2 separate regions of the Homo sapiens genome follow, and region 1 is linked to region 2. The links come from fine-mapping of genetic effects on plasma protein levels. A gene starts in region 2. The other region holds a variant in brackets. All regions are shown on one strand. Distances are from middle to middle. Region 1 has its middle 8.6 kb from the start of LINC01280. Region 2 holds the start of IGFBP2 (insulin like growth factor binding protein 2).

Evidence for each region. PIP is the posterior inclusion probability: the model's chance that the variant is causal. The UK Biobank Pharma Proteomics Project read protein levels with antibody pairs (Olink). The fine-mapping took linkage between variants from a reference panel, not from the people measured, so its PIPs are less certain.
Region 1: its variant is fine-mapped to the plasma level of the IGFBP2 protein (UK Biobank, PIP above 0.99).

What each region holds. Positions count from the first base shown.
Region 1 is chr2:216,614,045-216,616,946 of GRCh38, reverse strand. No RefSeq gene overlaps it. Among named protein-coding and RNA genes, the nearest start is that of LINC01280, 8.6 kb to the right of the region's middle. RefSeq lists a silencer at 1,447-1,741. The variant C/T (reference allele first, on the strand shown) is at 1,246.
Region 2 is chr2:216,631,899-216,634,784 of GRCh38, reverse strand. It overlaps IGFBP2 (insulin like growth factor binding protein 2), which reads right to left and starts at 1,365. Exons shown (of 4, transcript NM_000597.3): 1 at 820-1,365. The coding sequence starts at 1,261.

The DNA of each region.
Region 1 (2,902 bases), 18 kb after region 2:
AGTGGCCAAGGGACTCTAAGGCAGGGGTGTCCAATCTTTTGGCTTCCCTGGGCCACATTGGAAGAAGAATTGTCTTTAGCCACACATAAAATACACTAACACTAATGATAGCTGGTGAACTAAAAAAAAAAAAATTGCAAACAAATATCATAACGTTTTAAGAAAATTTACGAATTTATGTTGGACTGCATTCAAAGTCATCCTGGGCCGCAGGTTGGACAAGCTTGCTCTTGCTGTAAGGTATCATTGTCTGGGGGTTGGGCAGAAGGGAGGTTTTAGAGGGTCACAATGAAACCTCTACCACAATTGCACTAGACACACACACACACACCTACACACCCACCCACACACACAGGAACACACACTGCATGGCTAGGGTGCAGCATTGGGCATCTTGCCGATACTTTCAAAACTGTGCCTTCTGCCCAAGAGCCAGAATGCAGAATCAATAATTATTTCTATCCACATCTTTACAAAATAGTAAACAACCCTGAGGCTTAGCCAATCAATGACCTCAGTTCCTGCTCTTTGTCCAGAATCCTGCTCTCTGGACTTTCACTGTGTAAGGGGCATTTGAGTTGTAACCCAGAAGAACTCAGAGCTCGAAACAACCAGAACAAGCACAGCACACTTTAGAGGCACTTACTGGGGAGTCCTTATCCCAGCTCTGCCAGATAACCTACAATGTGACCTGTTTTGCAAGTCATCAAACTGTTAGGAGCCTCAGTTTTTGCATCTGCAAAATGGAGTAAGAACACCTAGTTCATGAGGCTTTTGTAAGGATTGTGTGGAATCGTTCTTGGAGGTTTCTGGGAGGATGTCTGACCCAAAGAAGGGATTCAGGTCAATGTTTGCCAAACCTGGAGTCGGATCTTTGCTGTGGACATTTGCCTCTTGGAGCAATCTCTTGACTTTGAGAACTCTGATCCACGATATGGGATGCCCTGTGTTCTTTAAGACCACCTGATGGCACCCTGAGTCTGGTCTCTCCTTCCCTGGGCATAGCAGTTCCAAGGGGACCTACCACGTGAGAGCATCACCCTTGCATGGAGACCTTCACCTTGCATTGTGCCATCTGTCACTGCCTGCCCATCCGACTTGATCCTGGCTGTCTGGAACAAGACCTTCTCTCTGGGGAAAATATTATTGTTTTTTTTGGCCACTTGTTTGATCCTCCAGAGTCAATATTTGCAGCGATAAGCACAGTGTGATGTAGCCAGTGGAGTTGTTTATAACTCTGCCCCT[C/T]TCCTATTGGGTTCTGGTTCCTTCTGGGCCACACTGTGAGGTGAGTGGGTGTGCATTTCAACAGCAGTGGGTCCTGGTACTCACCAAAACTGCTTTGGAAGAATATGGAAGAGGAGCTGGAGTCTGTTTGCTCCTGTCTCCTGAAGGTGTGCCCTCAGCCTACGCTGAATGCTAAGCAGGAATTTATGTGACCTTCCCAGGAAGCTGGCCTAGACGCCTTTCCCTCCTAAGCCTTTCTTGTAACACAAACCTCAGGGCTGCCCCAGTCTTCTCTACTAGATAGTGAGATCCCAGAGGAGTCTTTCTATAAAAATAAGATTTTCTGTTTCCACTTCACATAAAAATGCCTAGGGAGGTTTTCCACCCAGTTTGGAGGGCTTATTTCAAATGATTTGACTTAAAATACAGGCTATGAGGAGTGGGCAAAACTCCCTTTGAAGTGGCCCATAGGAGAGTACCCCAAGGGCTGGAGGGGTGGCCATTCTCTGGAGAGTGTGACTACTCGGGATACCATGAGAGGCCACAGTGACATCTGATTAGGAGAGACAGGCTGCACATATTAATCCATGGAGGACAGAGGCGACAAACATGGTTTCAACTGTGAGCTCCAAACCAAAAGTGATGAGGCCATGCATTCAACAATCGTAATTGAGCTGCTTCTCATATGGGCAACTCTATATGCCTCTAAGAGAGTAGAAGCAAGGATGGATATTTTTTCTTTTCTCTCTTTTTTGTTTTTTTGAGACAGAGTCTCACTCTGTCACCCAGGCTGGAGTGCAGTGGGGCGATCTCGGCTCACTGCAAGCTCCGCCTCCCAGGTTCACGCCATTCTCCTGCCTCAGCCTCCCGAGTAGTTGGGACTACAGGCGTGCAGCACCACGCCCGGCTAATTTTTTTTTGTATTTTTAGTAGAGACGGGATTTCACTGTGTTAGCCAGGATGGTCTTGATCTCCTGACTTCCTGATCCGCCCACCTCGACCTCCCAAAGTGCTGGGATTACAGGCGTGAGCCACCGCACCTGGCCAAGGGTGGATTTTTTAAACCATGGGTAATGGTTTTCTGGAGAAATACAGGCAGCCTGGCTAGCTAGTAATAATAATAATAATAATAATAGTAATAGCAACAACAAGAGAGGAAGTGGAGGAGGAATAGGAAGGAGGAGAAAGAAGAAGGAGGAACGGAACAGTGGCATGGCTGGGTAGTCCACTATGTGCCAGCCCCTTAGCAAAGTGATATCCAAAAGTGATCTCATTTAATCTTCAAAAAACCCCTACAAATCAGCTCTTATCATCTCCACTTTTCAGGTGAGGAAAGTGATGCTCTGAGAAGTTAAAGCTACTTGCCCAAGGTCATGCAGCTTACCAAAAGCAGATACTGATACGGTTTAGCTGTGTCCCCATTCAAATCTCAACTTCAATTGTATCTCCCAGAATTCCCACGTGTTGTGGGAGGAACTCAGGGGGAGGTAATTGAATCATAGGCCTCATCTTTCCCCTGCTATTCTCGTGATAGTGAATAAGTCTCACGAAATCTGAGGGGTTTATCAGGGGTTTCCGCTTTTGCGTCTTCCTCATTGTCTCTTGCTGCCGCCATGTTAGAAGTACCTTTTGCCCCAGCACTTTGGGAGGCTGGGGTGGGCGGATCACAAGGTCAGGA
Region 2 (2,886 bases):
CTCAATTTAAGATAGGGGCGGGGGTGGGGGGTGGCAACGCATCTCTCCTGCCTTTCGATCTGGGGCCCAGATGCGAAACCGCACAGCCTGGCTGCCCCCGTCCAGGGAATGCAGCCGGCGATCGGGCTTAAGTTACATTGATTCAGCTGCTAGGAGACCCCTCGCCTACCAAATGCCTCCCTTTTATTTTTCCATTCAACGTGGTAGCAAGAGCCCTGCTCGTTCCCTATGGAGAAATAGTAGTGGTGGTTTTCATTTTTCTCCTAAGCGACTCATCCTACAAAGTACCAAGTCCTTTCTTTCCAACTCACAACCCCAGTAGAAGGAAGGGCCCCTTGGGACGCCGGTGCCTCCTCCTAGCTCCCTCTCCTCTTCCAAGGTTCCTGGTGTCACTGGCACCCCGCAGCCTCCGCCTCCCAGCAGCGATCCCACCAGGACCCTTGGGTCCTCAAGCAGTGCCCCAAATAAGATTCGAGTTCCTACTCCCATGGATCTGACCACCGGCCCCCTTCTCAGCAAATCCCTCCTCCAGAATAGAAGTCTGGGTCCGTTCCACGCGGGTAAAACTATGGCAGCAGGGATGCCTTTCCTCTCCCCATTCATCCCCACCAAATGAGTCGCCAGGGCTCTTCCACTTGCTCTAACTCCAGTTCCCCTCCCCGGGCCTGACTTCCGCGTCCCGCTAGCAACAGTCCCCCTTGATTTGGTCCAAGGTCTCGGCTCTGCCGCCCCTAAAACCGTCCGTAAGGTCCAGCCGCCCGTCGGGCTTCTCCGCTGCCCTCCAAGTTTCTCCCAACTACTTGTTCCAGACCGCGTTACCTGCAACCTGCTCCGGGCTGGCGCCATACTCGGCGTCCCGGCGCTTCTCACAAGTGCCCTCGCCCATGACCAGCGCCTGCAGGGGCAGCTCGGAGCCCGGGTGGGGATAGCAGCGCAGCCCCTGGCCGCAGCGCGGGGTGTAGACGCCGCACGCCTCGCCCTCCAGCCGGGCGCACACCGAGCAGCAGCCGCAGCCCGGCTCCCGGACGAGCTCCGCGCATGGCATGCGGGCGCCTCCGGCCACTGCGGCCACCGCGGCGGGCGGCGCAACCGGCGGGGGCCCGCAGGCGGCCAGGCGCTCGGGTGTGCAGGGCGGGCAGCGGAACAGCACCTCCGCGCGCGCCCCGCCGCCGCCGCCACTCGCGCCCAGTAGCAGCAGCAGCAGCGGCAGCAGCGGCGGCGGCGGCAGCGGCAGCGCGGGGCAGCCCACTCTCGGCAGCATGCTGGCGGTCGGCAGCGCGGCGCGGCGGGCGAGCGAGCGAGCGGGCGGGCGGGCAGGTGGCACGGCCCTGCGAGCGCGGGAGCCGCCTCCTCCGCTTCTTCCTCCTCCCTCGCCGCCGCAGCCGGGTCCTAAAGGGCCGGCTTCTCCCCGCCCCCTGCCTTCTCCCCTCCCCCTTTTGGAGACCACTCCCTTCCCCCCCGACACTCCCTCGCGCCGGCAAGTGAGTGCGCGCACGCCCGCTCGCCCACCTCCGCGTTGGCTGCGGGCTCTGGGGGTTCCCTGCTCTTCCCGGGCCCCGTCCCTCCGCACTCTTCTGGCCTGACTATGACTCCTGAAGGAGAATACGGATAACTCGCGGGTTTGGGTAGGACCGGCGTGGCGGTGGAGAAGAGCGCGTGCTTTTGTCTGCTCTCAGTTCAGTTCGCGAGGACTTCGTTTGCGCGCTTCCCCTGTGGCCGGCACTGGGCTAACCGCTGGGGAACACAAAAGACATAAGGCTCCGTTTTGACCTTCAAGTAGATTTCAGTCGGCTCATACCAACTCCTTCCATCCTGGGGTATCACCCACCACTGACACGTGGCTTGGAACAATGACTTCTTGTTGGGTGGGTCCTGCGGAGTTTCAGACCCGTCTAGACCAAGCTAGACCCAAACAGCCCCGAATGGTCTTAGTGACTATTGCAGTTTTCCAAACCTGGGAGCTCGTGACTACAACCTATGAGAACCCTAAGTGCCCCGCAAAACCTGCCCCCTTCGTCTGCAGACCCCCTCCCTTCTCCGCCCGCTAAAATAATCCCTTAGCACCCTGGGCCCCCACCTACAAATCTCGAGGCACTTGTTGCAGGACAGATCCCAGAACACTCAGTTGCAGGGGTCTTGGAGAGGTCAGATCAGCTCTCCAGGTGTGACAGACCCGCTCTGGGGTAAGGCCATTTATGGCTGTCTTCAATAATGCAGATGGACAAGCATGACCTCCTTTCATTGTTCTGTTTGATTTACTGAGTCATCTACCCAAGCTGCCCCCAACCCCCATCATTCCAGGCTGGACTCAGCCATAATCAACCATCTCCTGGGGTGTGACCCTAACAAAGACCCCTGTCAGAGAGATTCCTTGGGTGACAGGTGGACCATTAAGCTGCCTCCACCGCAGGTTTCATCTCCCTATACCTCAGCGCCCCTCTTCCCCCCAGACCCCTCCACTCTGGCTCTTTCTGACTTCAAGGCTCAGAGCCTGTTTGATTCAGTTCAACAGCTAGTTAACCCAATGGCCACCTGGCTCTGAAGGTGACCTAGATGCCTCCAGGAAGGCAAGTACCTGGTCTTAAGACGCCAAGCTGGGAAGAGTTATCGGGAAAGACTTTGGTAAGATAAAAAATAAATAAATAAATGTTTATCAGAGGCTTTGAAGAAAAGAAATATTTTGGTAGAGAGGTGATGTGGTGGTTGAGGAAAGGGGAGTTTCTTGGGTGAGTCGGAGCTGAAATTGAAGCTTGTAATTCTACCAGAGGAAATGGGCGGTTAGCAAGGGCACAGGCAGAGGGACCACCTGAAGCAAAAACACAGAAATGGGGCCGGGCGCGGTGGCTCACACCTGTAATTCCAGCACTTTGGGAGGCCGAGGCAGGT